4 linked regions of the Homo sapiens genome follow. The protein of the gene in region 1 purifies or fractionates together with the protein of each later gene. This does not show direct contact. Each region holds a gene or a part of one and is shown on either strand. Other genes may lie near its edges.

Region 1 (7,643 bases):
TTTTTAGTATAGACGGTGTTTCGTCACATTGGCCAGGTTGGTCTCGATCTCCTGACCTCGTCATCCGCCCGCCTTGGCCTCCCAAAGTGTTGGGATTACAGGTGTGTGTGTTTATGGCCACCGTGCCTGGCCATAAACATCAGTTTCTAAAAAAAAAAAAAAAGAAAAATATCTAAACAAGAACAGCATCTTCTTCCATTTGAATTTTTTTCTCCAAGAAATTCTGAGCAGATTATCCCTTTACCTTTTTTTCCTTTTTTTTTTTTGAGACAGGGTCTCACTCTGTTGCCTAGGCTGGAGTGCAGTGGCACAACTTTGGCTCACTGCAACCTCCGCCTCTGGGGCTCAAGCAATCCTCCCGCCTCAGCCTCTTGAGTAGCTGGGACTACAGGCACATGCCAGCATGCCCGGCTAATTTTTATATTTTTTGTAGAGATGGGGTTTTGCCATGTTTCCCAGGCTGGTCTCGAACTCCTGGGCCCAAGCAATCTGCCCACCTCAGCCTCCCAAAGTGCTGGGATTACAGGCATGAGTCATTGCACCTGTCCTGCCTTTTTTTCCTCCCCTCCCCTCCCTCTCTCTCTTTCTCTCTTTCTTTCTTTTTGATGGAGTCTCGCTTTGTCACCCAGTCTGGAGTGCAGTGGCGCAATGTCGGCTCAATGCAACCTCTGCCTCCCGGGTTCAAGCGATTCTCCTGCCTCAGCCTTCCCAGTAGGTGGGATTACAGGCATGCACCACCATGCCTGGCTAATTTTTGTATTTTTAGTAGAGACGGGGTTTCACCATGTTGACCAGGCCTGTCTTGAACTCCTGACCTCAAGTGATCTGCCCGCCTGGGCCTCCCAAAGTGCTGTGATTACAGGCGTGAGCCACCATGCCCAGCCTCCTACATTTTTTTTTCTGAAGTCTTACATGTTACACCTTCAGAAATGCCTTTCCTGCCCACCTAATACTCAGAGTTAACACTCATATTGCACTCACTCTGTGCTAGACAATGTTTTTTTGTCTTTGTTTTTTGTTTTGAGACAGAGTCTCACTGTCACCCTGATGTAGTACAGTGACACAATCACAGCTCACTGCAGCCTTGGCCTCCTGGGCTCAAGTGATCCTCCCACATCAGTCTTTAGAGTAGCTGGGTCTACAGGTATGTGCCAGCACCAAACCTGGCTAATTTTAATTTTTTTTTTTTTTTGGTAGAGATGAGGTCTCACTATGTTGCCCAGTCTGGTCTTGAACTCCTTGGCTCAAGTGATCCTCCTGCCTTGGCCTCTCAAAGTGTTGGAATCACAAGTATGAGCCACTGTGCCCGGCCCAGACATTGTTTTAAGCCATTTTCATATACCAACTCTGTTAAACCTTTGTACAAGCCTATGAGGTAAGTAGTATTCTTACAATCTCCAGAGGAGGTAAGCATTATTATTATCTCCATATTGGAGCTGAGAAAACTGGAGTACAGAAAGGATAAATAACTTCTCCAAACCAAAATCACACAATAAGTGGTAGAGCCTGTATTTGAACTCTGCCCACATGGTGCTAGAAGCTACATCCTGTACTTTACCTCCTCTGTGTTATCAACCTAAAGTAGGCCTCTTTTTTTTGAGACGGAGTCTCGCTCTGTTGTCCAGGCTGGAGTGCAGTGGTGCGATCTCGGCTCACTGCAACCTCTGCCTCCCAGGTTCAAGTGATTCTCCTGCTTCAGTCTCCTGAGTAGCTGGGATCACAGGCACGTGCCACCACACCAGGCTAAGTTTTTCTTTTTCTTTCTTTCTTTTTTTCTTTTTCTTTTTTTTAAGACGGAGCCTTGCATTGTCACCCGGGCTGGAGTGCAATGACGCTATCTCAGCTCACTGCAACCGCAACCTCCATCTCCCAGGTTCACGCAATTCTCCTGCCTCAGCCTCCCAAGTAGCTGAGATTACAGGCACACACCACCATACCCGGCTAATTTTTTGTATTTTTAGTAGAGACAGGGTTTCACTATATTGACCAGGCTGGTCTCAAACTCCTGACCTCATGATCCGTCCGCCTCGGCCTCCCAAAGTGCTGGGATTACAGGCGTGTGCCACCATGCTGGGCCCTTTTTTTTCCCCCAAAGGACACAAGTACAGGTAAGAAAATGTAGTTTTTTGTTTTTTTTTTTTTTTTAGACAGGGTCTCACTTTCTCTCCCAGGCTAGAGTGCAGTGGTGGGATCTCAGCTGGTCAGGAACTCCTGACCTCAAAAAGACCTGCCCGCCTCGGTCTCCCAAAATGCTGGGATTACAGGCGTGAGCCACTGTGCCCAGCCAAAGGTAGACCTCGTCTACTCCATTTTTCTTGCTTATAGTACCTCCTATTTTCCCTTTTGAGTACTAATCACAATTTGCAATTAAATATTTGCTCACTGCCAGGTATGGTGGCTTACACGTATAATCCCAGCACTTTGGGAGGCCAAAGCAGCGGAATAGCTTGAGGCCAGGAATTTAAAACCAGCCTCAGCAAGACCTCACCTCAACAATTTTTTTTTTTTTTCTGTTGGCCAGGCTGGAGTGCAGTGGCACGACCTCAGCTCCCTGTAACCCCCACCTCAAAGCAATTTTCATGCCTCAGACTCCGGAGTAGCTGGGATTACAGGCATGTGCTACAATGCCCAGCTAATTTTTGTATTTTTAGTAGAGATCAGGTTTCACCATGTTGGCCAGGATGGTCTTGAATTCCTAGCCTCAAGATATCTGCTCACCTTGGCTTCACTACTGGGATTACAAGTTTGAGCCACTGCACCCGGCCTCAACAAAAACAAAAATTTTAATTACCTCACCCTATGCATCTCTTCATTTGTATCCTTTGTAATATCCTTTATATTAATAATAAACCAGTAAATGTAAATAAATAAATAAATACTGTTTGTCTCTTCCCAGCAGATTGTAAGCCTGATTAGGGCAGGGATCATATCTGTTTTATTCACATCATAAGCACTGTGTAACCTCTGGTTTCTTTTCTCTTTGAGATGGAGTTTCACTCTGTGGCCCAGGCTGGAGTACAGTGGCGCCATCTCAGCTCACTGCAACCTCTGCCTCAAGCAATTCAAGTGATCCTCCTGCCTCAGCCTCCCCAGTATTTTGTATTTTTAGTAGAGATGGGGTTTCGGCATGTTGGCCAGGCTGGTCTTGAACTCCTGACGTCAGGTGATCTGCCTGCCTTGGCCTCCCAAAGTGCTGAGATTACAGGCATTAGCCACCGCGGCCTGGCCAATAGGCACTATGTAACTATTAGTTTAATGAATGAAGAAATGAATGCTTGTGGGCATCATTCATTCTGCAACAAACTTCTAAAAATTAATTTTACTTTGAAACAATTTCATACTTTCAGAGGAGTTACAAGAATAATACAAAGAAGTTCACCCAGATATCTCATTCAGGGTTAGCCAATTGTCCACAAAATATACTTTAGAGAGCAAGAGGATTAATTCCAGGGTCTCTTGAGCAACAAATATTTATTGAGCGCCTGCTACTATTGGATTACATAACAGTCTCTTAACTGGTCTCTTAGCTATAGGCATTGCACCCCCACCCCTAGTCCCATACAGCAGCTCCTTTTACTAATTTATTTTTGAGGAGGATCTCGCTCTGTCGCCCAAGCTGGAGTGCAGTGCCGCGATCTCAGCTCACTGCAACCTCCGCCTCCCAACTCAAGCGGTTCTCCTGCCTCAGCCTCCAGAGTAGCTGGGACCACAAGCACGCACTACCGCGCCAGGCTAATTTTGGTACTTTTTGTAGCTACAGATAGAATAGAGATCTTTGTCTATTTTGTTCACGAAGTACTGCAAGCGCCTTGAGCTGTACCTGGCACATCTTTGTTGCTCAGCAAAGAGTGGTTGGATAAACGAACGCTGAAGGTATGCTAGTACCAGGTACTGTTCTCGGTGCTGGAGTTACAGCAAAAAACTCCCTGCCCTCGTGGGATTCTCACTGGAAGCATGCTTAAGCTTAAGCCATTTTTCAATCTTGACCCCACCATTTTGTTCCCTGTGAGATTTGGGGTGAACTGCAGTTTCCTAGCCTCACTTTCCTATCAATCGTTACGAAGATTAAAAGGAAAAATATCATTTGTATCGCATTTAGCATCAGAAATGCTTTAATAATATTCGTTTCCCTTCCTTTCAGGCTGGAAGACTGGGGCCTGACATCTCTGCCACAGGCTTAGGCGAGGTTTTCACAGGGACTTGGAAAGGTGCAAACGGTTACTACGGCCAGGCTTACCCAATTGTTAAGTGAAGATATTCTGGAGAGTGCTTAAAAGGGTTGGAAAAACAAACCAGTGAGTGGCTAGGACCACCTACTCCGCTGTTTTGCCTCGGAAAAGCCTCGCCGGCTGCCGGGAGGTGAAAGTCTGGAGGAACGGGAGGAAAAGAGAGGGGTGGCTGTCCACAACAGAAAACTACACATCCCAGCACCCCCGCGGCAGACGACTACGGGTCCCAGCAGGTTTCGCGGGGTGGACCGAAGCGGGCTCTCTTGGGGCCTGCAGTCGGGGTTCAGCCAGAGGGGGCGCCGGGCGTACCGACGTAGCGGGGAGAAACGGGTCGCGCTTTAACGGCGCTGCGCAGGCGCCACTCACGGGCCGGACGTGACGCAGGGAAAGTTCCGGCTTCGGCCTCCGCCGCTGCCGCCGCCGCTGCTACAGCCGCCGCCGCCGCTGTTGCCGCGGCTTGTTATTCTTAAAATGGCGCCGCTAGACCTGGACAAGTATGTGGAAATAGCGCGGCTGTGCAAGTACCTGCCAGAGAACGACCTGAAGGTGAGCCCTATTTGCGGGCTCGCCCCTTCCGGCTGTGGGGCGCCCGCCGGCCGGCCCTTCCTTTCTCCAGGACCCCCGCCGGGTATCCAGTCCAGTCGCGGTGGAGGGCCTCCCCCATTGCCAGTCGACCCGGTCCTACCCGGCGTCACGCCGAGGGTCTCGCGAGCCGAGTCGTCGAATGCTGTCCCGGTTGCCTCAGTGGGGATCCCGAGGGATGTCGCGGCCTCTGTCCCAGGGTCGCCCCTTCTGGCCTTCGGGCTGCCCCAGGACCCGCAGCTGTAACAGCTTTATTTAGAAGGCTCGGCTCCCCACCCCATCCCTGGGTCTCCCGCAGTCGGAGCCGAGCCCCCGCGGCAGTGCCCTCGGGATGGGGTCGCCTCCACCGGAGGTGACAGGAGCGCGGAGTGGCCGGCGTCTGACAGGAGATGCCACCGGCTACCGGAACGCGGCCTCAGTGTGTTTAGGTCTCTGAGGAAGGGGAAGGCGGTGGGCCCGAGTGGTTTGGTACTGGCGGGAGCGAACGTCAGGTCGTCCCTCTTCATTGCCACTCCTCCAAATTGCTTTTTAGGATCGTCGGTTTTGCTAATTCAGAGGTGAATCCCGTTTCTGAGTATGTTGTTGAGCTTACTGAAGTGGATAAAGTAGTTGGTTCTCAATAAATACAAATACTTTCTCCTTAACCCCTTCTTAACTCAGTATTTCATTTTCTTCGTTTTCTAAAGGAGGTGAGTTCCTTGTTACTCCTGAGTCCAAGTAAGAGTAAATGTATGTATGGGTAAAGGAATGACTTTGGTATACTGCTTTTCTTTTTTAAAACTTTTTAATTATTATTATTATTATTATTATTATTGTTTTTAACTGAGATAGAGTCTCACTCTGTCACCCAGGCTGGAGTGCAGCGGTGCGATCTTGGCTCACTGCAACCTCCACTTCCCGGGTTCAAGCGATTCTCCTGCCTCAGCCTCCCGACTAGGTGGAATTACAGGCGCCCGTCACGACGCCCGGCTGTTTTGTATTTTTAGTAGAGACGGGGTTTCGCCATGTTGGCCAGGCTGGTCTTGAACTCCTGACCTCAAGTGATCCGCCCGCTTCGGCCTACCAAAGTGCTGGTATTACAGGCGTGAGCCACCGCGCCGGCCTAGGTATACTGCTTCTTTGAAAAGTGTTTCTATGCATTTGCTGAAATCAGAGCTTAGGTTTCTAGCAGTGCTTATCAGCTCGTGCTAGTATTTAACCGACTCAGTGTATTCTTTTTTTTTGAGACGGAGTCTCGCTCTGTCGCCCAGGCCGGAGTGCGGTGGCACCATCTCGGCTCACTGCAACCTCCGCCTCCCGGGTTCACGCCATTCTCCTGCCTCAGTCTCCCGAGTAGCTGGGACTACAGGTGCCCGCCACCACGCCTGGCTAATTTTTTGTATTTTTAGTAGAGACGGGGTTTCACCGTGTTAGCCAGGATGGTCTCGATCTCCTGAACTCGTGATCCGCCCGCCTCGGCCTCCCAAAGTGCTGGGATTACAGGCGTAAGCCACCGTGCCCAGCCCCGACTCAGTGTATTCTTAAGGAAATATATTACTGTGGGTTTTGTTTTATTTCTTCTTTGTACAGTAAGTTGATACTTAACATCAGTCAACAAGTATGCATAATATTTGAGGCCACACGTGCTGTTGTGAATGTGACTGAATTGTACTTACCTGTTAATTTTATGTGGCATATGATAGGGGAGTCATTCTTGTGCATTTTCCCGTTTTTAATAGAATAATTTCAAATAAGGACAGCCTTCGTTAGTAGTAATGTAGCATTTGTGCTCATCTGAGTCCTTCAGACATTCCTTTTGTGGCTTCTTTCTGCTATGTGGTTTTTTTAAGGGAATAAGAATACAACTAGCATTGGGACCCAATTCATGGAAAACTAACCAGACCTCTTAGTAGCATTATTAATCCCATAGGTGAGGTTGACTATTGCATGTCAGTGAATTGACATGGAATTTTTTCTTCTTATTTATCATGCATAAAGCTTTTTTGAACTTTGTGTTTATGATGAATAAAATGTTGCTTTTTATGAAAATGTGTCTAGGGCACAGTGGCGTAATCTCAGTACTTGGGGAGGCTGAGGTGGGCAGATCATTTGAGATCAGGAGTTTGAGACCAGACTGACCGACTTGGTGAAACCCCCTCTCTACTAAAAACACAGAAATTAGCCGAGCATGGTGGTAGGTGCCTGTAATCCCAGTTTACTTACTTGGGAGGCTGAGGCAGGGAGAATGGCTTGAACCCGGGAGAATTGCTTGCAGTGAGCCGGGATCACACCACTGTACTCCAGCCTGGGAGACAGAGCAAGACTCTGTCTCAAAAAAAAAGAAAAGGAAATTGGGCACTGAAATGATTTGAAAGATAATCTGGCCAGGTGCAGTGGCTCACGCCTGTAATCCCAGCACTTTGGGTGGCTGAGGCAGGTGGATCACTTGAGGTCAGGAGCTCGAGACCAGCCTGGCCAACATGGTGAAACCCCGTCTGTACTAAAAATACAAAAATAAACTGGAGGTGGTGGCAGGTGCTTGGAATCCCAGCTACTTGGGAGGCTGAGGCAGGAGAATCGCTTGAACCAGGGAGGCGGAGGTTGCAGTGAGCCAAGATTGCGCCACTGCAGTCCAGCCTGGGTGACAGAGGGAGACTCCGTCTCACCAAAAAAAAAAAAAAAAAAAAAAAGAAAGAAAAATCTGTTGGACTTCTTTGTACCTCTTAGTTTGATAAACATTAGATTTCCTTCTTACCTTAAGGAAGTACAATTTTTAGACCATTTTATTTCTTGTTGAAACATAGCTGCATTGTACTTGACTTGTATTTGTTTCTTTTTTTTTCTTAAAAAAAT
Region 2 (7,076 bases), on another chromosome or scaffold:
GGCTAATTTTGTATTTTTAGTAGAGACGGGGTTTCTCCATGTTGATCAGGCTGGTCTTGAACTCCCAACCTCAGGTGATCCACCTGCTTGGCCTCCCAAAGTGCTGGGATTACAGGCATGAGCCACCGTGCCCGGCCGCCACCTTTCCGTTTATCCTCTTCCGTGATACCCCAAGTTGGGTGATGATCTCACTTATTTTCTTTCCTAACATCTCTTCTTTTCGCCTCTGCACTCCAGAGAGAGTCTGTTAAAATGTCCACATCCCCCAGTCCTCCTTTCCACTACTGTAGTACAGTGCCTCCTTCCAGTTCACAAATGGTAATCTGGAGCCACCTTCAGATGGGCACATGACCTTAAAGGACAGATTTACTCTTTCGAATTCCACTGTCTTGTCCAGCCCCACCCGCCTCTGACTAAGGGCTTATACATGTGAGACAGCTGCTTTGAATGAGGAGTAAGGATCTGGTTGGTTAAAAGACAGAAATTAACAGGGATACATAACTGAACTGTGACCTCATTATCACTCTGCCTTAACCAAGTTGACTGCTACAGAATCCCCAAGGTCCAACAGGCCTACCAAGCCAATTTGCTTACTGTCCCCTACTAATTGGTTTAACTAATTACTGCCATTTAAACTTTCCTAGTTTAGTCCCTATACTTGAAACAACCGATTTCTTCCCATGTCTCCACCATTCTACATCAATAACTTCCTTCAAGTACTGACTCAAAACACACCTCCTCCAGGAAGACCCTCTTGACTGAACCCTTCCTTCAACATTACTCTGAACACATAATGCCATGTAATCTAGCATGTATCCTATATTCTGTAGTTGTTTCACATGTATATGTATGTTCATCTACTAAGTTATAAGCTCCTCATAAAGAGACACCATTACTTCTAATTTTTGACCTCCCGACCAATTAGTACAGGGCTGTACATCGGGTGAGTCCTCACATTTAGTCAGAAGAAGGAAAACTGAGGCTTAAAAATAGGCAGCCATCTGTCTAGAGTTACCCAAATATGAATGCTTGTAGTTCAATCCAGAAGGACTGTCCATATAAGAAGGTTTTATCACCACTTCTGGCCTCCTCCTCCCATACCCTGTGTGTCTCCCTGAGCCCTGAAAGTATCAGTGTTCCCTACATCAAATCCCTTTTTTTCCTACTGGGAAATCCTCTTTTGATGCTCTAAATAATATTAAAAATAACTCTTCTAGCCCGTCCTCCTCCCTCCAATTGCCCAGAGAACCAGGCTGGCAACCTCTCTTGTTCACCTCCATCCCCTAGCCAGAACCGGGCACGTGACCCCAGCTGAACCCCTGACTCCAATTCCTCAGGTTACCTAGAGTTATTTTGGGCAATGGATACCATGTATGCCCCTCCTCCTTATCCTCTGGGCCATATCCTAGTTTAGCCCTTCCTGGAAGGCCCATCATACCCAATAGCCAAGTCCCAACACCCATATCCATTTGATCCTTTGCTACCTTTGGTTTCTGCTGCTGCTTCATCATCATCATCAGTCATCAAATATTAAATGCCTGTTTCTCTATACTGATATTCTGGAGCTTAAAAAAAACTATACCTGGCTGGGCACGGTGGCTCACGCCTGTAATCCCAGCACTTTGGGAGGCCGAGGCGGGCGGATCACGAGGTCAGGAGATTGAAACCTCCTGGCTAACATGGTGAAACCCCATCTCTACTCAAAGTTAGCCGGGCATGGTGGCAGCACCTGTAGTCCCAGCTACTGGGGAGGCTGAGGCAGGAGAATGGCATGAACCCCAGAGGCGGAGCTTGCAGTGAGCCGAGATCCCGCCACAGCACTCCAGCCTGGGCGGCGACAGAGCGACACTGGTCTCCAAAAAAAAAGGTGAAATGAGAAACAAAGGTGTACAATTTAACCAGATTGTGGCAGTATAAACTAAGTATGTAAGTGTTAAGGAGAACTAACAAAAGGAAAAGAGCCTATTAGCCAGAGGAGACTTCCTGGAAGAGGTAAGTTTAAATTTCTTCATAATTTTTGTGTGTGCATGGAATCACGGAGTGATTGCTCCTAAGCAATATTTTAACTTTTATTTTCAATATGGTAAAAATTTAAAAAATTCCAAAAGGTATATAGTGATAGGTAAATTTCTCTCTCATTCCTTATTTCCTGTACCCCAGTTTTTCTTTCTGGGAAAAAAGGACTGTTACTAGTGTCTTAAGTATCTTTCTAGCAGGAAAGCAAGGGAAGGCTTTTTTTTTTTTTTTTTTTTTTTGACATGGAGTCTGGCTCTGTCACCCAGGCTGGAGAGCAGTGGCTCCATCTCGGCTCACTGCAACCTCCGCCTCCTTGGTTCAAGTGATTCTCCTGCCTCAGCCTCTCCAGTAGCTGGGATTACAGGCGTGCACCACCACACCAGGCTACTTTTTTATATTTTTGGTAGAGATGGGGTTTCACCATGTTGGGAATGGGAAGGCTTTTTTTTTTTTTTTTTTTTTTTTTTTTTGAGACGGAGTCTCGCTCTGTCGCCCAGGCTGGAGTGCAGTGGCGCAATCTCGGCTCACTGCAAGCTCCACCTCCCGGGTTCACGCCATTCTCCTGCCTCAGCCTCCCAAGCAGCTGGGACTACAGGCGCCCGCCACCCTGCCCGGCTGATTTTTGTATTTTAGTAGAGACGGGGTTTCGCTGTGTTAGCCAGGATGGTCTCGATCTCCTGACCTCGTGATCCACCCGCCTCGGACTCCCAAAGTGCTGGGATTACAGGCGTGAGCCACCGCGCCCGGCCGGGAAGGCTTTTTTGAAATGTATTTTCGCCGGGTGCGGTGGCTCACGCCGGTAATCCCAGCTCTTTGGGATGCCGTGGCAGGTGGATCACCTGAGGTCAGGAGTTCGAGACCAGCCTGACCAACATGGTGAAACCCCCGTCTCTACTAAAATAAAAAATTAGCCGGGCAGGGTGGCGGGCGCCTGTAGTCTCAGCTACTTGGTAGTCTGAGACAGGATAATCACTGAACCCGGGAGGCGGAGGTTGCAGTGAGCCGAGATCGTGCCACTGCACTCCAGCCTGGGGGACGAGAGTGAAACTCCATCTCAAAAAATAAAATAAAATGTATTTTTATTTTTTAATTTTTTTCCTCTCCCCTCAAGGGAGGATTTTTATATATAAAGCCTTGACAGGACGCCAGCATGCTGCACTTCGTCCATTTCGTGTTCTCTTCAATGTGTATTGAGTTGTGAAACTCTGAACAGGACCCTGGATCACCTTTTATAAATTGTATCAATTTTTCAATCTCCACTTTTCGTCTTCCTCCTTTTTCCGTTTCTGGGTTGAGATGACCTCCATTCATTTCTTCTCTAATTGACGGCTCTCTGGCCTCTCCATTGGAGGAGGGGAAGCGCCACAGGCTGTTCTGGGGAGAAATTGTTGAGTGTTTTCCACTTTAACCTTGCAATGGAATCAGTAAGGAGTTGGAAAATGCCCCTTCTGTTGGTCTTGGCGGCCTTTTCCAGCTGCCAGTTGTCATGGCCTCTTTGTGGGTGTTTTCTGCAGTAGAATCCTCCTTGGGGTTTCTCTGCAGTTTGAGCACTTTTGCTATTTCTTCTCTACCGAACTCACGCCTCCGCCAGTGGAGATACACGCTTTCCCTCCCTCTGGGGCTATTGCCATACATAATTCCCAGTTCTCCACCCGCCAGTTCCTCCTAGTCTGTGGGGGATTTCGGGGTGTGGAATCGCTGACGGGAGGAGTTAGCTCGGGCGGGAGCATTGTGGGCTGGGTAAGATCTGGCCAGCCGTTCGGTCCTCAGTTTGGGAAGCACCGCGGGACTAAGGCCCAGGTTTCCGCTAGGGTCTTGTGGGGAACCCCTTGGGCCGCCAGACTGGAGCGGAGAGCACAGCGCGGCCAGCTGCGTGAGCCGGGGAGCCGGCGCGCGAGTTCGGGGGTGCAGGGGCTGCTGGGGCCGCCAGGGTGGGGCGGAGGGCGCTGCGGCCGGGGTCCGTTTGCGCGGGGAGCGCCGGGACCAGGACGGCCGCCAGGGAGCGCTGCGGCCTCCAACTCGCCCGCCCCCCGGTAGGCGGGGCCGCGCTCTCCCTGCAGCCGCCACCGCAGCCGCCGCCTGGGCCGCTCCGTGTCCCCGGTGGAGCCGCCGCCGCCGCCGCCGGGAGCTCGATGCGGACGGAGCCCGGGCCGAGCCATGGGGATCCTCAGCATCACGGACCAGGTCAGCCCTCCTGCCCTTTCCCGCTTCCTCCTTCCAGGGCTCGGCGCTGCCGTCACGCGAGCCCGGGGATGTGCGGCCTAGGCTGGGCCTGAGCCCGGGGCTCCCGCAGCTCCCGCCCCGCCCCATGCCGCGCTCCCCTCAACCGAGCCGGTGTCCTTGGGGACCTGGCAACCGGCGGAGGCACCGCGGGAGCTCGCTCCAGCCAGAATCCCTAGAGTGGAGCCCCTCCACGGACGCCCCCCACTCAAACCTAGGTGCTCCCCCACCCCCACCCCCACACCGGTTCCGCTCCGGCTCCAGCCCGCTCTCAGAATGCCGGTTCTCTCTGCAGCCGCCCCTGGTCCAGGCCATCTTTAGCCGAGATGTGGAGGAAGTGCGTTCCCTACTCTCGCAGAAGGAGAACATCAATGTGCTGGTGAGTTGGGAGCAGGGAGGATGGCGAGACCGGAATCCTGGCTCCCGTGTTCTGGACCCCTCCCCACCGGTGGGGCGGCTCCGTGTCTCCTCTGCTCAGATGAGGCCGCAGTTCTTTCCATCCTGGAGTGAAAGCCTACTCTGCATTTGGGGATGGAGAGCAGGTCAGGCTTGAAGCCCAGATCACTTGGGCTGGGAATGCCCAGGAACGTTGTTCTCTTCTCAACCTCCGGAGTCTGCAGCGCCCCCACCCCTCCTGGAAAAAGGAGCCGGCTTCTCAGCCCATTGGCCCTGACTCCACCCTCCCTAGGTGCTTGCCTTTGACTCCCAATACCGGGACTTAGGACGCTGCAGAAACTATGGGAAGAGGTTGTGGGGAAGGGCCTGGAGCTCTGAGACTTGGGCTGGGGTCCTTGATAGCCCCCTTACCCCGCGCCCATACTCCCTGCTCTTTTTTGCCTTCCCAGGACCAAGAGAGGCGAACTCCATTGCATGCTGCTGCCTACGTAGGCGATGTCCCCATCCTCCAGTTGCTACTGATGTCAGGTGAAAGTGGGGAGCTGGAAGGTGTGGCACATAGGGAGCGAAGGGAGGGGAGGAGTCTTTTTTGATATTCAAGGATTGCTCTCCCCGGCTTGGTCCAGGCGAGGCTCCAGCTCCATTCAGATTTCCTGGCCTGATTACTGGCTTCCTTCATACCTCCTCCCCACCTTCCATCAAAATAGGAAATTATATCCCCACAGGTGCTAATGTCAATGCTAAGGACACACTGTGGCTGACCCCTCTTCATCGTGCTGCTGCCTCCCGAAACGAGGTATGCACCCCCACCTTCTATTACCCTTTCAAAAAGGATAAGTTGCTTAAAGGTGGGGGTTAAGGGTTAAGGAGCCTCAGTCCTCAGCCCTACAAGCTGTTCTACCCCAGGTAGTGAGGAGATCAAATCTTGGCCCCTTCCTCCTACCCCTAGAACTGGCCAGTAAGGGGGTTGAGTGCTGCCAGCTGATGTGACTCAGGAAGAGCTTAACACTGGGCTGGCAGACTGCGGGGGCCCTGCTGCCAGGCCTGAGTGACTCATCCCTCCCTGGGGGGCCACCTTGAGTCTGATCCCCCTCTGGGCACTGAGATTTCTTTTCCTTGTGATGGAGGATGGGTATAGTAATCTGTTGCATCCTTGGCCCTCAAGCAGCTTGAAAGTTGACAGCACAGGGGCCAAACATATTTCATCAGTTGGGTCCTTTATCCTATTCCCATCAGCCCTGAAGACAGGGAAAGGGGGACCTCCTCCTCAGTTCATCACTTCCCTGGCTCCAGCCACCAGGGGGAGGGGCCGAGGCCAGTGGGAATGAGGTGGGTGGTGGTTAGGAGGGGCATTTTAGCTCGGGTTTTGCAAACGAACCAGTATCTGTTTGCTTACTGAGATACTGAAAATAATTTTGGTGCCTATGAGAAGGCTAAAGAGGGTGTTCAGGGCAAGATGTAGCAAGAGCATTTAGTTTTCCTAGAAGTAGTAGGGGGTTGGGATGTGTGGATCTCCACATGTGGATTTGTTTGGGAATGGATGTATGTGTGAGTGAAGATTTTCAGGGTCTAAGTTGGCGAGTCAGGTGGCTTGAAGAAGAGCAAAGGGTCCTTGTTTTAATCAGCAAGGTAAGGAAGAGCTTAAGTTCTAAGAAGATCCAGAAGATGGAAAGTAGGTATTCAGAGGCTAGGTATGTTGGAAAAATGAGAAGAGATTCTGTGCTGGGGAAGGGGCTGTAGATGCTATGCTGACCTATTCCTCCTTCCATTTCCTGTTGTTTTACCTCCTGCTCCCACTCTCTCTTTTGTCCCCTGCCCCTCAACAGAAGGTGCTGGGGCTGCTGCTGGCACATTCAGCAGATGTGAATGCCCGGGACAAGCTGTGGCAGACACCACTGCATGTGGCTGCTGCCAACCGGGCCACCAAGTGTGCTGAGGCTCTGGCACCCCTGTTGAGCAGCCTCAACGTGGCTGACAGGAGCGGGCGCAGTGCTCTGCACCATGCAGTGCATAGTGGGCATCTTGAGGTGAGGACTGTTCCCATCCAGGCCCAGCTGGGGCTTTCCCTTTTCTTACCTTCCTACTCACGTTTCCCTGCTTCTGGGCCCTCAAGCCTGAAGGAGAAGCAGCCCGGATGGTTATATAAACACTTAAGCTGAAGCACTAAATGAATGGTCAGACTAGATTAAAATTCTTAACTTGGACTTCAGGAGGTTGATAAAACCTTGGATTTTGCGTGGAAAATATTTGCATACACGCCTTTCTGAAGAGAGTCCATGTCTTTCAGCACATTTGCAAAGACTTACAAGAGTTTAAGAACCGGCCGGGCACGGCGGCTCACGCCTGTAATCCCAGCACTTTGGGAGGCGAAGGCGGGTGGATCATGAGATCAGGAGATCGAGATCATCCTGGCTAACATGGTGAAACCCTGTCTCTACTAAAAA
Region 3 (5,111 bases), on another chromosome or scaffold:
CAGAGGTGTGTACTCAGTGCTGTGTGAGATGCCTGTGGGCCCAGGCACGGAGGGATGCATGCGTGCCCAGAAAGCAAAAGGCTGTGCAGAGGACCTGCTAGGAGGTAATGACTAGAGAACATGTTTTTAAGCAAACAGGTGAAGGGAAAATGCAAAATAAGGAGCTACATAAGCATCACATCTTAAGAATCATTATGGAGCACCTAACTGTGACTTGTTGGGCTGGGAGCCAAACAACATAGGTGGGACACGCTGCACATAAAAGTAACAAGCTGGAGGTCCAGAGGAACCCTTGGAGCCGTCCCAAGACTGAGAGCCGGTGTCAGGCACCACCTCTTCTGGGCACCTGGGCTATGGCAGTGGGGAGGATGAGCCCCTGATCCCAGAGGCCACTCTCTCACACAGTGCAGTGCAGTCTTTCTCACACAGGACCTAGTGTAACACGGGACCTAATGGCAGGACACATCAACCCATTAAAAATCCAAGCAAGGTACAAGAGATTTCTAGAAACAAAGAATCAGGCTTTATTTTTGTTATTTTGAATACAGGTATTGTATTGTAGACATCTGTTAGTCTCATAATTCAGTATGGCCAACACACAGAAATTAAAAGTAGAAACAAAATGAGGGCACACTTGCTCCTGTCCTTGGCTTGGCCCCTCCAACCTCCAAAAGAACTGTCCTCCCCATTGTCATATCCTTTCCCTGCTACGAAAGACAAAACAAAATGATGCCCCAAAGAAAAGTCCCAGAGGCTCTCTCCCAGCAGTCAGTGGGATGAAGCAAGACACTGTTACCTTGGGTAGGATGGAGAAGCCACCAGGTCCATACCACAGAGGCCACAGTGGGATGGAGAAGCCACCAGGTCCATACCACGGAGGCCACGTGTGCCACCAGTGGAGCCAAACCCTGGCCATGGCTGGCAAAACTCACCACCAGGCGAGACCAGAGCATATTATCTACCAGTAATCCCCGAGGTCCAACGCCATTCAAGTCAGGCAGCCCTGAGGCAAGCAGGAGGAGCCCTGTCCTCTGGGGGTGCTGCTTCCAGAGGAGGCCCAAGGACAGTCTCTTCAGAGAGGGGCTCACCCGGGAAAGGGGGTTCCTGAGGAGGCGTGCAAAGGTCAAGGGACCCACCCTTGCCACCTGTCCCAGGGCTTACTGCTGACTCCACTGTCCTGGGAGTGCTGGAATCTCCACACCACTTAAAATGAAAAAGGAAATCAGAAATAATAAGGCATTAGACGTTTGATTCTTTTATTTCCATATGCAATGTAATGTTTAGGCACGCTGCTTGGGATGCTACTTCTAAAAAAATTGTTGGCCATTTTTCAGAATATCCTTTTGGTTTTAAATACTGGTCAGGAAAAACAAATGATGTAAAAATACGTGAATAATTTTCTATTACAGAAATGAAAAACTGATTTGCATCTAAAAGTGCAAGAGGTGAAGTAATTTAACCCTTTCACCAGACGATATGGCAATATACAATATATTGCTTGAGCTGTTTGAGAAGGCTGTGATGTATTTTTGTATTGACATAGAAAATTATAAATTACATTGAATTAGTATCCATAATCACTATATATATACACAAACCAGTTCTAAAAAAATACACTGGTTTAAATTTATGAGTGAAAACCTCACAAGGTACAGTAAACAATTAGCATGCTTCGGTGCCAGATTTTGATTTCTACTTTTAAAATACTAGCCTGTAAAATGAACGCACTCTAATTCCATTAGCAGCACGAGCATTTTCAACTGACTTGCCTAATAGGATTTATTTTAGGTCTGTTAAATATGCAGATTGCTCTGAAATGTTCATTGGTGATGCTTGTTAACAAGGTAAATTTTGGTGAATGGGTTAAAAGGCAGATGAACTACCAAATGAAACAAAAAAACAAACAAAAACAAAAGCCAAAAAAAAAAAAAAAAAATCCCAAAACACAAGCCATATACACTCCAAATAGTCTAGTGTTTCACTTGTAGGAATAATCATTTCAAGCAAACAAGACTTGAACAGAACATATGGCTTTACGATAACATCAATTTATCAACTATGATGTAGCAATAAATACTTTACTTAATCTCTACCAATAGACTTACATTTTTGATCCGTTTTAAACAATACAGAAAACAATTACCAATCAAAAACTGGTTATAAAAAGAACACCAAATATTTCTTATTCAAAATCACTTTTGTAAGTTAGAACAACCAAAATAACACTTAGAGGGCATTTTCATTCTACAACTCCTTGTCGGCCTGGAGGAAAAATGAATTCATAATTTTGTACAAGGTGAAAAATGTATGAAAACCGCCTAATACTTTGGTCACACTAATAATTGTCAAAGTTATGTTTCAAATACAATAGATCTGTGTATTCACTTTTATAAAACTATTCTTACAGCCATTTTAACTATAGTATTACTACTATTATTACATGGGTGGCAAGATCTTATTTCACAGGCTACCCATTATTTAGAACAATACAATATAAACATACGCAAAAATTCTTGGTATTTGTCAATGTGCAATATTTTTACACTTCTGAATTTCTCTGTACAATGTCTTAGAATCTAGAATATAAAGGTTGCTGGTCCTGATCCCTTGCAGAGTGAGTGCAGCAGTGACAGCTTGGTGGGCTCCAGCTGACCCCTCCAGAGCCCCTGAGTGGTGGCGGTCTGCAGTCCTCAGTCAGCAGCAGCAGACGTCACCCGTCATACAGGGCCATTCACTGAAGTGTCACCTGGTGCGCTTGGTTGGCCAGTCCTAAGGAGCAACAGACAGGCATCGGAGGCACTTGCAGCAGAAATATGAAAAACAAAACCTACTTAGCTGAGCTCCCCAAGGGCAGGGACAACTTATTTTAACATTGTTTTGAACTTAGTAAGTTTTTAATAAAATGATATGTAAATGAATGGAGCAAAAGCTCTAGAAAAATCTGAGTGAGTGCATCTAAGCTTCATCACCGGGTGAGCAGGCATTCAGCAAGGGCAGCAGCAGAGCAAATGCTCTGGGAGAACCGCCCCACCGCGGCCTCCAAGAAGCACAGGGAGTGACTAGGTCAGTGGGGTATAAACTGTGGCTTCCAGAGCCTTCAGGAGCTATGTGTTCACCGCTCCTTCAAGAAAGCTTTTATGTGACCCACAGATTGGAATCCACATACTATTTCACTTGGAAACAGGATTCTGCTACTAGGAAAGGGGGGAAAAAAGGAAAGGAAAGGAGGTTTGCAAATAAACTACTGGAAAAAAAAAAAAAGGTGTCCACTTGAAGAACATGTCCCACAAAGCAAATGTTAGGCTCAAAACTGGGAGGGAATAACAGGTGGGACAGTATATAACAAAGTGTCCAGGTTTTGCCTTCCTGCCAAAATTACAACCTGAATATATAACCTATTCGGGAAGGCTTGACCAAAATTGTATCAAGCAGACTTGGGAAAGGGTGCTTAGGGCCGTAACTGGGATGCCCACAAGCACTTTTCCACTAGCATTCACAATTTACAGCTAGAATGCTACTCATGCCTTATACCTGCTGGTTATACAGTGAGCCAAAAAGTCAGCTCTGCACACACAATCCACTCTGCTCACTTACTTACATCTGATGGTGGCTCCGTGTATGAGAGACATAGGAATCGAGACTTCTGGAACTAGACATAACTGGTATATAACTAACTTGCCTTCACTTAAACAAGCTGAGTGATCTTATAAGTAGATTTCTTAGCCCCTCTCAGTTCTGTTTTCTCCTCTGTAAAATGGGAAAAGAACCCTCCCCACGCCCCACAGGGCTTCACTAGTATACATATGAAATAAGTACATAATGTGTGCAGCATGCTCAGCACATCAGAAGCACAAAGGACATGCTTGATAAAACAGCTGTGAAAAGTGAGATCATGTGGCAATGCAGATCTTTAAGTGTGACAGGAAACAGCGCGCCTGCCAATCCAAGGAACTGTGGTATCTGGCTGGGACGGGAACCACACAGGAAAGACGGGTGAGCTTCAATATCCCATGCTGTCATACGTCACTTTAGAACACGTGCAATCTAGGACGCACTCTAGGTCTGCCCTAATGCCCACTCCAACGTCACCTCAGAGATCCTCTCCCCCGCACCCCAGCTCACATGGACCCCTGTCCCTTCTTCGTGGCTTCTTGATGAATGTGCCTCTAGTATGCCCCGAGACCACTGGGTGTCCGTGTGCTGCAGCTTTATGACCCGGCCTAGACCAGTGGCCACCACACACAAACGTGTGTCAGAGGAAAGAAGGACAGATGGATAAAGGCATGGACCCAAGTGATGCCCCTCTTCTTCCACTGGCTGACCCCATCTTTTCCTCCATCCCTTGGCCCGGCAGGTTAGGGCAGGGCTCTTCAGAGCAGGCATTCCCAGCCACAGAGGAGAGCAAGTGGCTTCCCCTTATGCAAACAATTCTTCTGTGCTCAGAAAGCCAAGGAAATGACTCCAGAGCCTTGTGCATCCTTATGACAGAGAAACCAAGAATATTCCCCTGAAGCAACTGCCCCAAACTGGGATAGACCTGGACGATCCTGCCTAGGCAGCCCTCAATATAAAGGAAATTTATAGGTAGAAATCAGAGAGCTGAAATAATTGATTGGGAATGAGACCTATAAAGGACCATTAAAAAATACATTGAAACCCCAAGAAAGAGAGTGACTTGCCCAATCCGTAGAAGCAGAGTTGAGGCAGCTTCCCAGTGCTAGAGGGCCACCCTGCCTCTTCCCCCAAAAGCCTTCACTAGAGCCAACATGCTCAAATAGTTCTTAATTTGTTTGTTTTATATGCAAAAAAAATATTTCTAATCACAAAAACAAAGGCTTTATTTTGGCTACAATTTCCACAGGAGGAACACAAACAGCTTGCTACACTGTGAATACAGGATTTTGGACCAACAAAGAGTGCTCCCTGCTGGTTCCCACTGGTTATGCTCTCATACAATGCTGGCAAGATTTGGGGGAGGATGGGGTGGGGGTGGGGGGTTAAAACTTCTCTGAAATAGCTTTAAAGGTCATTTTATTCCTTATGGAAGGAATATACAATCTTAGCTACATTTGTTCACAGAAGTTGATTGTGGGAAGTGCTGAACAAAGCTT
Region 4 (7,028 bases), on another chromosome or scaffold:
ACAGGCGTTGAGCCACTGCACCCGGCCAAGAGAGGTTGATTCTAAGACCTGCAGGCATCTCCCACTCTCCATCTGACTTTGAATTCCTGCCTAGTCTGCCGAGCAGGTCTGACCTTTGAAGCGCCCCGTCGCTGTCTTCCAGAGCAGGCAGCCATCGTGGATGAGTTTGCGCCTCAGAAGTTCCTCTCGGCCAAAGGGGCCCTTGCCAGGCACTGGGGTTTGGGCCCGAGGGTCCATGCGGTTGTAGATCTCCTGCAGACGGGCCCCTTTCTCCAGCTGATAAATACCCTCGTCCACATTGGACAGCAGCTCCTTCACTAGCCCCAGTGCTGTGGTCAGGTCCTGGCGCTCCTCCTCGATCCCTGGCACCGGGGGTTGGCATGGGGAACGGCTCAACCAGTTTCACTCACACCCCAGTTCCCATCGTGTCTTGATTCCACCTTTAGAGGCTGCCCAGGGTTTCACACCCGACCCCACCCTTCCTGTGGTCATACCGAGCCTTTCCTCACCCCAGGTGGCCGTCTCCCAGTGGCCCTCTCCTGGGCCTGCCTACTCACCGTGGGAATGCTGCAGGATGCGGCTGATGAGTAACGGGTACTTGGTGATGCGCTGAGTCACCAGCAGGATGCACTCCTGTACCCCGTGCCGCTTGAGCACGGCGGGGCGGGTCACTTTCTACAAGGGAGGAGGCAGGGCTCAGGGCCAGAGGGGAGGGCAACAGAAAGGCCTGGGGCCTGAGCTCTGGTGCTGGCCCTGGCGTGGCCATTTACCTCATGCTTGCCTAGGTGACATATCTGGAAAATGGGGATAACAACGCCACAGGTTTGTTGTGAGGACCAACTGAAGGAGCAAAAAGTACTTGGGAAACTACCACAACGTGCTCTAGCATTCTGAGGGGTTACTGCTGACAGGATCTGTGTATGGATGGTCTGCACGGGTGGCGAATGCCTGACCTCCATGTGGGTGCAGCTCACAGGCACTACCCCCATGAGTTGGGGAGGGTGGGTTTGGGCCATGAGCATGGGATCTGGAGAGGTCCGCTCACCCGGATGAATTGCTGGAAGCGTTTGTCTCGGGCGTACAGCTCCTTATAGAGCTTTAAGGCCTTGCTGTGGCGGCTGCAGAACTCCGAGTAGGTCTTACACATCTGCTCCGCACTAGGACCTGAGAACTAGAAGTTGGTCGAGTAAGGTTAGGTCAGCATTCCCCCAAAGCCACACTTTACCCACTGGACACACCTCTGGCCTCCTGCCAAACAGGCTGGCTTCCTGTTTCTCCAGCTCTCCCTGGCTCCCCTCCAACCCCTAGAATTTGGACCCAAGAAATGCCCAACCCAGTCACACCTCCTTCCATGAATGTCACCCAGGGGTCCTGCCTTTTCCCACCTGGCTGATGAGCAGATCACCCAAGCGATGGATGACAAAGTTCCGGGTGCTGCCAGGGCACAGGGCCTGGCGTCGGCGTTCTAATAGCTGGCTGAGGAAGCGTGTATGGATGTCACTGAGCTCGTCCACGCAGGGGAACAGGCCCTGGACCACTCCTGGCTCCAAGTGTAGCTCTTCCAGCATCCCCGTGCGGAAGAGGCGGGTCATGATCTTCAGTGTCCTCACATGGTGCAGCTCTGTCTGGATTAGCTCTGTGGGGGACATTGGGACATTTGGCCTCTACCCTGGCTTGGCTAAAACTCGTGGGGCCCTAGGATAAGGACCTCACAGTTCACGTGAGGTTTTCAAGGTCCATTCCAGGTTAATATTCTGCATTATTATGATCTTAGATACTTTTCTAATCATTTTTATCTTTTTTTTTTTTTTTTTTTGAGACAGAGTCTCACTGTATTGCCCAGGCTGGAGTGCAATGGCGCGATCTCAGCTCACTGCAACCTCCACCTCCTAGGTTCGAGCAGTTGTCCTGCCTCAGCCTCCTGAGTAGCTGGGATTACAGGCACGCACCACCAGGCCCGGCTAATTTTTGTATTTTTAGTAGAGATGGGGTTTCTTCATATTGGTCAGGCTGGTCTCGAAATCCTGACCTCGTGATCTCCCCACCTCGGCCTCCCAAAGTGCTGGGATTACAGGCATGAGCCACCACACCCGGCCCTCATTTTTATCTTTCAAAAATTTTATTATTATTTTTTTTTTTCCAGAAATGAGGTCTTACTCTGGTGCCCAGGCTGGAGTGTAGTGGCACAATGATAACTCACTGCAGCCTCGAACTTCTGGGCTCAAGCGATCCTCCTGTCTCAGCCTCCCAAGTAGCTGGGACTATAGGCACATGCCACCACACCTGACTAGTTTTTTAAAATATTTTTTAAAGACGGCTGGGCACGGTGGCTCACGCCTATAATCCCAGCACTTTGGGAGGCCGAGGCGGGTGCATCACCTGAGGTCAGGTGTTCGAGACCAGCTTGGCCAACATGATGAAACCCTGTCTCTACTAAAAATGCAAAAATTAGCCGGGTGTAGTTGTAGGCGCCTGTAATCCCAGCTACTTGGGAGGCTGAGGCAGGAGAATTGCTTGAACCTGGGAGGCGGAGGTTGCAGTGAGCCGAGATAGCGCCAGTGCACTCCAGCATGGGCGACAGAGCAAGACTCTGCTTCAAAAAAAAAAAAAAAAAAAAAAAATATATATATATATATATATATATATATATACATATATATATATATATATTTTTTTTTTAGAGACAGAGGTCTTGCTTTGTTGCCTAGGTTGGTCTCAAAATCCTGGCGTCAAGTGATCCTCCCACCTCGGCCTCCCAAATCGCTGAGATTATAGGCATGAGCCACCACGCCCAGTTCCATTTTTTATCTTTACACCTTATCATCTCAAGCTGTGAGCTATTTTAGGGTAAGAACCATATGTCTTCTACATGTCGAGGCTTCCCACAGTCTCCAGCACGGTGTTAAGCGTGGAACAAGCACAGAGTAAAGACTGAAGACAGAGATAAAGAAGGGATAAAGAGAGGGTGTTGGAGACCAACAGCATCAAGAGGTAGGGACCTAGTGGGCAACCTGTGGGATACCAGGCAGGGTCTTGTAGGCCAAGAGGGAAAGGGTTTTGAGAGGTAGGGGCTGGTAGAAAGAAGGACACAGCCGGGTACGGTGGCTCACGCCTGTAATCCCAGCACTTTGGGAGGCTGAGGCGGGCAGATCACCTGAGGTCAGGAGTTTGAAACCAGCCTGGCTAACATGGTGAAACCCCGTCTCTACTAAAAATGCAAAACTTAGCCAGCATGGTGGCAGGCGCCTGTAATGAGAATCGCTTGAACCTGGGAGGTGGAGGCTGCAGTGAGCCGAGATCATGCCACTGCACTTCAGCCTGGTTGAGAGAGTGAGACTCCATCTCAAAAAAAAAAAAAAAAAGAAAAAGAAAAATAAAGAAGGAAGTAGATAAACAGGACCTGGTGAAGGAAGAGGAAGACTAGGGTGGTCTTGGCTTACCATAGATGACATCTTGCTGCTTCATCACCTCCTTTTTATGCTGCTGCAGGAAGCTGCTGTCCACAGCAAGACTCCAAGAGTCAGCTGCAAAGTCCTTCTCATCCATCTCAAAGTCACTCATCAGCTCACTGTAGATTACCTCTGCTGGACATTAGCAGGGCAAGCAACTCAGAGGTCTTGAGTTCCCTTCCCTGGGTCCCTGGCCCTTCTCTAGATCCCTTCCCTCCTTGTCCTTCCAGGCTACTCCCACCAGCCTCTCATCCCCCAGCCCCTCTTCATGTTCCTCAGGGCTCCCCTGGGCCCAGGCCTGCTCACCTTCGTCAATGAGGGATTCCACGGATAGGGTTCGGTTCCGCATGTTGAGGGAGTCTGTGGACTGTGAGAGGATCCGGCGCAGCCCCAGGGGAGACTCATCATTGAAATGTCTGAAGAAAGTGGAGGCTGTCTGCATCACCCCCAGTCGGGCAAAAGATCCCTTCCCAGGTAGGGAACCAAAGCCAGGATCCAAGAGGCGGTCCCCCTAAGTTCTCCTTATTTGTCTGTCTACAGTTCTGAACTCAGGGATGGAAAGGGACCTCTCAGCACCCCCTTGGCCTCCACTGCCACACTCTCTGGCTGCCCCTTTCCCCAAACAGAGGCTCACCCAGCAATGTTGGTGGTAGAAACACTCTTGGCTAAAGACAAGGAGGAGCGGCCACGGCGGGAGCCCAGGAGGGACTGCCGGAAGCTGTCGGAGGGGTAGATGGCCGAGCTTGGCCGCTCCCGGATGGTTGCTGTGGGGGAGAGATGCCCAGCAGGCAAACATCAGACTCTGGTGCTTCCCAGGATTGAGGCCTCCTAGGCTCCTCAATGAGGAATGAGGCATCCTCTCACTCCACCTCAGCCCCTCTAGTCAAGAAAGATGGTAATGAGAATGCCACCTTACATTTGTGCCATACTCTAATGTTCACAAAGAGCTTTTTCTTACTTATCTCCTCCCTGACATAAGCCTATAAACAAACAGGAGCTCAGAAAGACAAAAAGACTTGTCCAGGGTGACTTGGGTAATGGCTAGGCAGGGACTGAGGCTCTGCTCTTTATACCTAAGGGCCATGCTCTTTCTGTTACACCAAAGCTGTCTGAATTGACACTTGACAGCTGCTACCAACACTCCCGAAATGCAGTGTAAATAACTGATAAAAATGCAGGCTGCGGCCAGGCTCAGGCGACCACCCATCCCCAGCCCTCATCCCCATTCGGACTCTCTCTCCCCTTCTGCCTCTAAGTCCAAGAGTCCGAACCCTCCCTTAGGCCCCCACTATCTGCTTCCAATCAAGAAGAGGAAGGTGCTATGCCTGGGAACAACCTTAGTGGGGCAGCAGAGCCCATGGGTTGAGCAGCCTGGGGTCCAGGGTCTTAGGGGACCTCCTCCACTCCCCAACTACTCACTCTTACTTCGAAGAGAAACGGACTGCAAGGCGGTGTTGTTCTTCAGCAGGGCCGCTTTCTGTTGCTGTGAGACAGAGAGCAGGAGAGAGATACCAAGAATGGCTGTCACCCAAGGATCACCCCCAGAGGCATGGGACAGGAGCTAGGTGGCCGGCCCCCTTAGGAGAAAGCTGGCACTATGGTTAAGGGGATCAGGGTGATTGAGCCCAGTGCTGTGGGGACATGTCTGCAGCAACAGGCCTGGCCTACTTGGGGCCCGAGGCCTGGGGTTGAGGGTCTGGGCTGCCCCTTGGTGAGGAGGTGGGTGGTGAGAAACACAGGGTAGGGAATGAATGGAAAAGGCATGAGGGTACCGCACACTCACTACCCTCTCCCCCAGCCCTCTGCCCTCCCTGCCGTCTCACCTTCTGCTTGACCTTGGTACAGTTGGCGAGGGTGTCTTTACAGCGGTTGTGGATAGTCACATTGCAGGCTGGGAGGGTGGGGTAGAGAGGGTGAAGGGAGGGCCGGGTGGTACAGGAGGGGACACACCCACATGCAGACACCCATCTCCTCCTGGCCACACAGTCCTCGGGGACTCTCCCCCCTTCCCCGACTTCTGGGCCATTACCACACCCCAGTCCCTCTCCTCCCACCTCCCTCTTCCTTCAAGCAGGAAATGAAGTGAGGGGGGTATAGGTGCTGAATGAAATTAAACAATCAAGTGGGATGGGCAATCCTGACCCCAAGGTGGCCTGAAGGGCGGACCAGAGGGGAGCAGGGGTCACTGGCTGCCAGAGATGAGCTCAAGAAGCACGAAGGTGGTTGCGAATGGCAGATGGAAGAGAGGACTCCCACAGAACAGAAGATGGCACAGAGGCAGCCAGAATGGGGGCTAGGGGCAGAGGGGAAATTTACATTCCCTGAGCTTTTATAATAGTAAATGTTCCACATTTACTTAATCCTAACCACCCGTAGAGGGAGGTTCAGTTATCCTCATTTCATGTATGAGGAACCTGTCCTGGAGTGGCTAAATCGTCCATCAGAGGTCACACGGCTAGTGGGAGAGGTGGTGTTTACACTCCGGTGGGCCTGAATCCAAAGGCCGTGCTCCTTCCCTCGCACCACATGCCCTGGACTCTGGCTGGGCCTCAGCAGCTCCAAGGCTGATTGATGGCTCCAGTGGTAAAGAAGGGACAGGCAACTCCCCACCAAGCCTGGCCTTCTCCCTTCCAGGCCCAGGGAGTCCTGTTCCCCCAACTCAGGCAAATCCACAGCTCCCACACTCCATCTGCTTCTCCGCCATCCTCCACCCCACCTTGCCATGGGGTAGGAGAGAAGAAGAAAGGAGGATTCGCTGAGCCTAGGCACTGGGACCCTGGCCGTGCCCTTCCCAGACATGCCCTCAGCTCCCGGCCCTCTCCAGCTTCCCCTCCCCCATCCAACAACACCGGAAACTCTGCTAACTCTTTCAGACAATACCCAGCACCACGCTCACTTCCACAAATACAAGGCAAACAGGGTGGAGCAGAGGGGGCAGACAGAAGTGGGGGTTGCAGCTGCCCCCACCCCCCTGGAGCTCCCTTCTCCTACCCCCAACACTCAGTGTCTCTGGATTGAACCTCCGCTTTCCACCTGCTCTCAAAATAGTGCTGCCCGCCTCCCCTGTTCCCCTGGCAACAAGCTTCCGGATTGGGAATTTTGTCAGGTCTCTATAGGGATCTAGATTGGGGTTCCCTCCTCATCCTCACAACTCTAAATTGAACAGTGAGGAAAGTAGGGAGGCTTCACTGGTTTTCTTTTCTTTCTTTTTTTTTTTTTTTTTGAGCGGTAGCAAGCTTTATTGTGAAGAGCAAAATGACAAAGCTCCCACAGCGTAGAAGGGGACCCGAGCGGGTTGCCCATCACTGGTCCTTTCTGGGGGTTCCTTCCCCAAGTTTCATAGGGATTTACAGGCTAGAGCTTTTGTCCGCTATTCAGTAGCAGGTCACAATACCTTCAATCCTGCTCTAATCAGAGGCATCTCTGCCATAACTTCAGGAGGAATTGAGGGAGAGGGGGCAGCAGGAGCCCTCTGTGTACTGGGGAAGGAAAGAATTCCTGGCTTATACTCCCTAAAGACAGGACTACACTCAGATGTGGATGAAGGGCAGGAATTCTAACCCCTGCCCCTCAACACAC

The links.
Region 2: the proteins of PPP6C (region 1) and ANKRD52 purify together in Homo sapiens (affinity purification with mass spectrometry; 6 studies listed by BioGRID and IntAct, with this or other methods). This does not show direct contact.
Region 3: the proteins of PPP6C (region 1) and PPP6R3 purify together in Homo sapiens (affinity purification with mass spectrometry; 10 studies listed by BioGRID and IntAct, with this or other methods). This does not show direct contact.
Region 4: the proteins of PPP6C (region 1) and ARHGEF2 purify together in Homo sapiens (affinity purification with mass spectrometry; 4 studies listed by BioGRID and IntAct, with this or other methods). This does not show direct contact.

The regions. Positions count from the first base shown.
Region 1 is NC_000009.12:125,186,776-125,194,418, reverse strand, and holds the start of PPP6C (serine/threonine-protein phosphatase 6 catalytic subunit), read left to right. Parts: upstream 1-4,615; 5' UTR 4,616-4,700; coding exon 4,701-4,775; coding exon of another isoform or gene 4,776-4,857; intron 4,858-5,471; coding exon of another isoform or gene 5,472-5,500; intron 5,501-7,643.
Region 2 is NC_000012.12:56,255,367-56,262,442, reverse strand, and holds the start of ANKRD52 (serine/threonine-protein phosphatase 6 regulatory ankyrin repeat subunit C), read left to right. Parts: upstream 1-4,058; 5' UTR 4,059-4,173; coding exon 4,174-4,200; intron 4,201-4,531; coding exon 4,532-4,615; exon of another isoform or gene 4,616-4,973; coding exon of another isoform or gene 4,974-5,081; coding exon 5,082-5,160; intron 5,161-5,357; coding exon 5,358-5,428; intron 5,429-6,458; coding exon 6,459-6,659; intron 6,660-7,076. UniProt on the Homo sapiens protein: Putative regulatory subunit of protein phosphatase 6 (PP6) that may be involved in the recognition of phosphoprotein substrates.
Region 3 is NC_000011.10:68,610,724-68,615,834, reverse strand, and holds the end of PPP6R3 (serine/threonine-protein phosphatase 6 regulatory subunit 3), read right to left. Parts: intron 2,800-5,111; coding exon of another isoform or gene 2,770-2,799; coding exon 2,718-2,769; 3' UTR 1,204-2,717; coding exon of another isoform or gene 1,158-1,203; 3' UTR 501-1,157; downstream 1-500.
Region 4 is NC_000001.11:155,961,548-155,968,575, forward strand, and holds part of ARHGEF2 (rho guanine nucleotide exchange factor 2), read right to left. Parts: intron 5,341-7,028; coding exon 5,273-5,340; intron 4,933-5,272; coding exon 4,869-4,932; intron 4,214-4,868; coding exon 4,084-4,213; intron 3,866-4,083; coding exon 3,756-3,865; intron 3,585-3,755; coding exon 3,441-3,584; intron 1,637-3,440; coding exon 1,386-1,636; intron 1,172-1,385; coding exon 1,046-1,171; intron 676-1,045; coding exon 558-675; intron 363-557; coding exon 114-362; intron 1-113. UniProt on the Homo sapiens protein: Activates Rho-GTPases by promoting the exchange of GDP for GTP.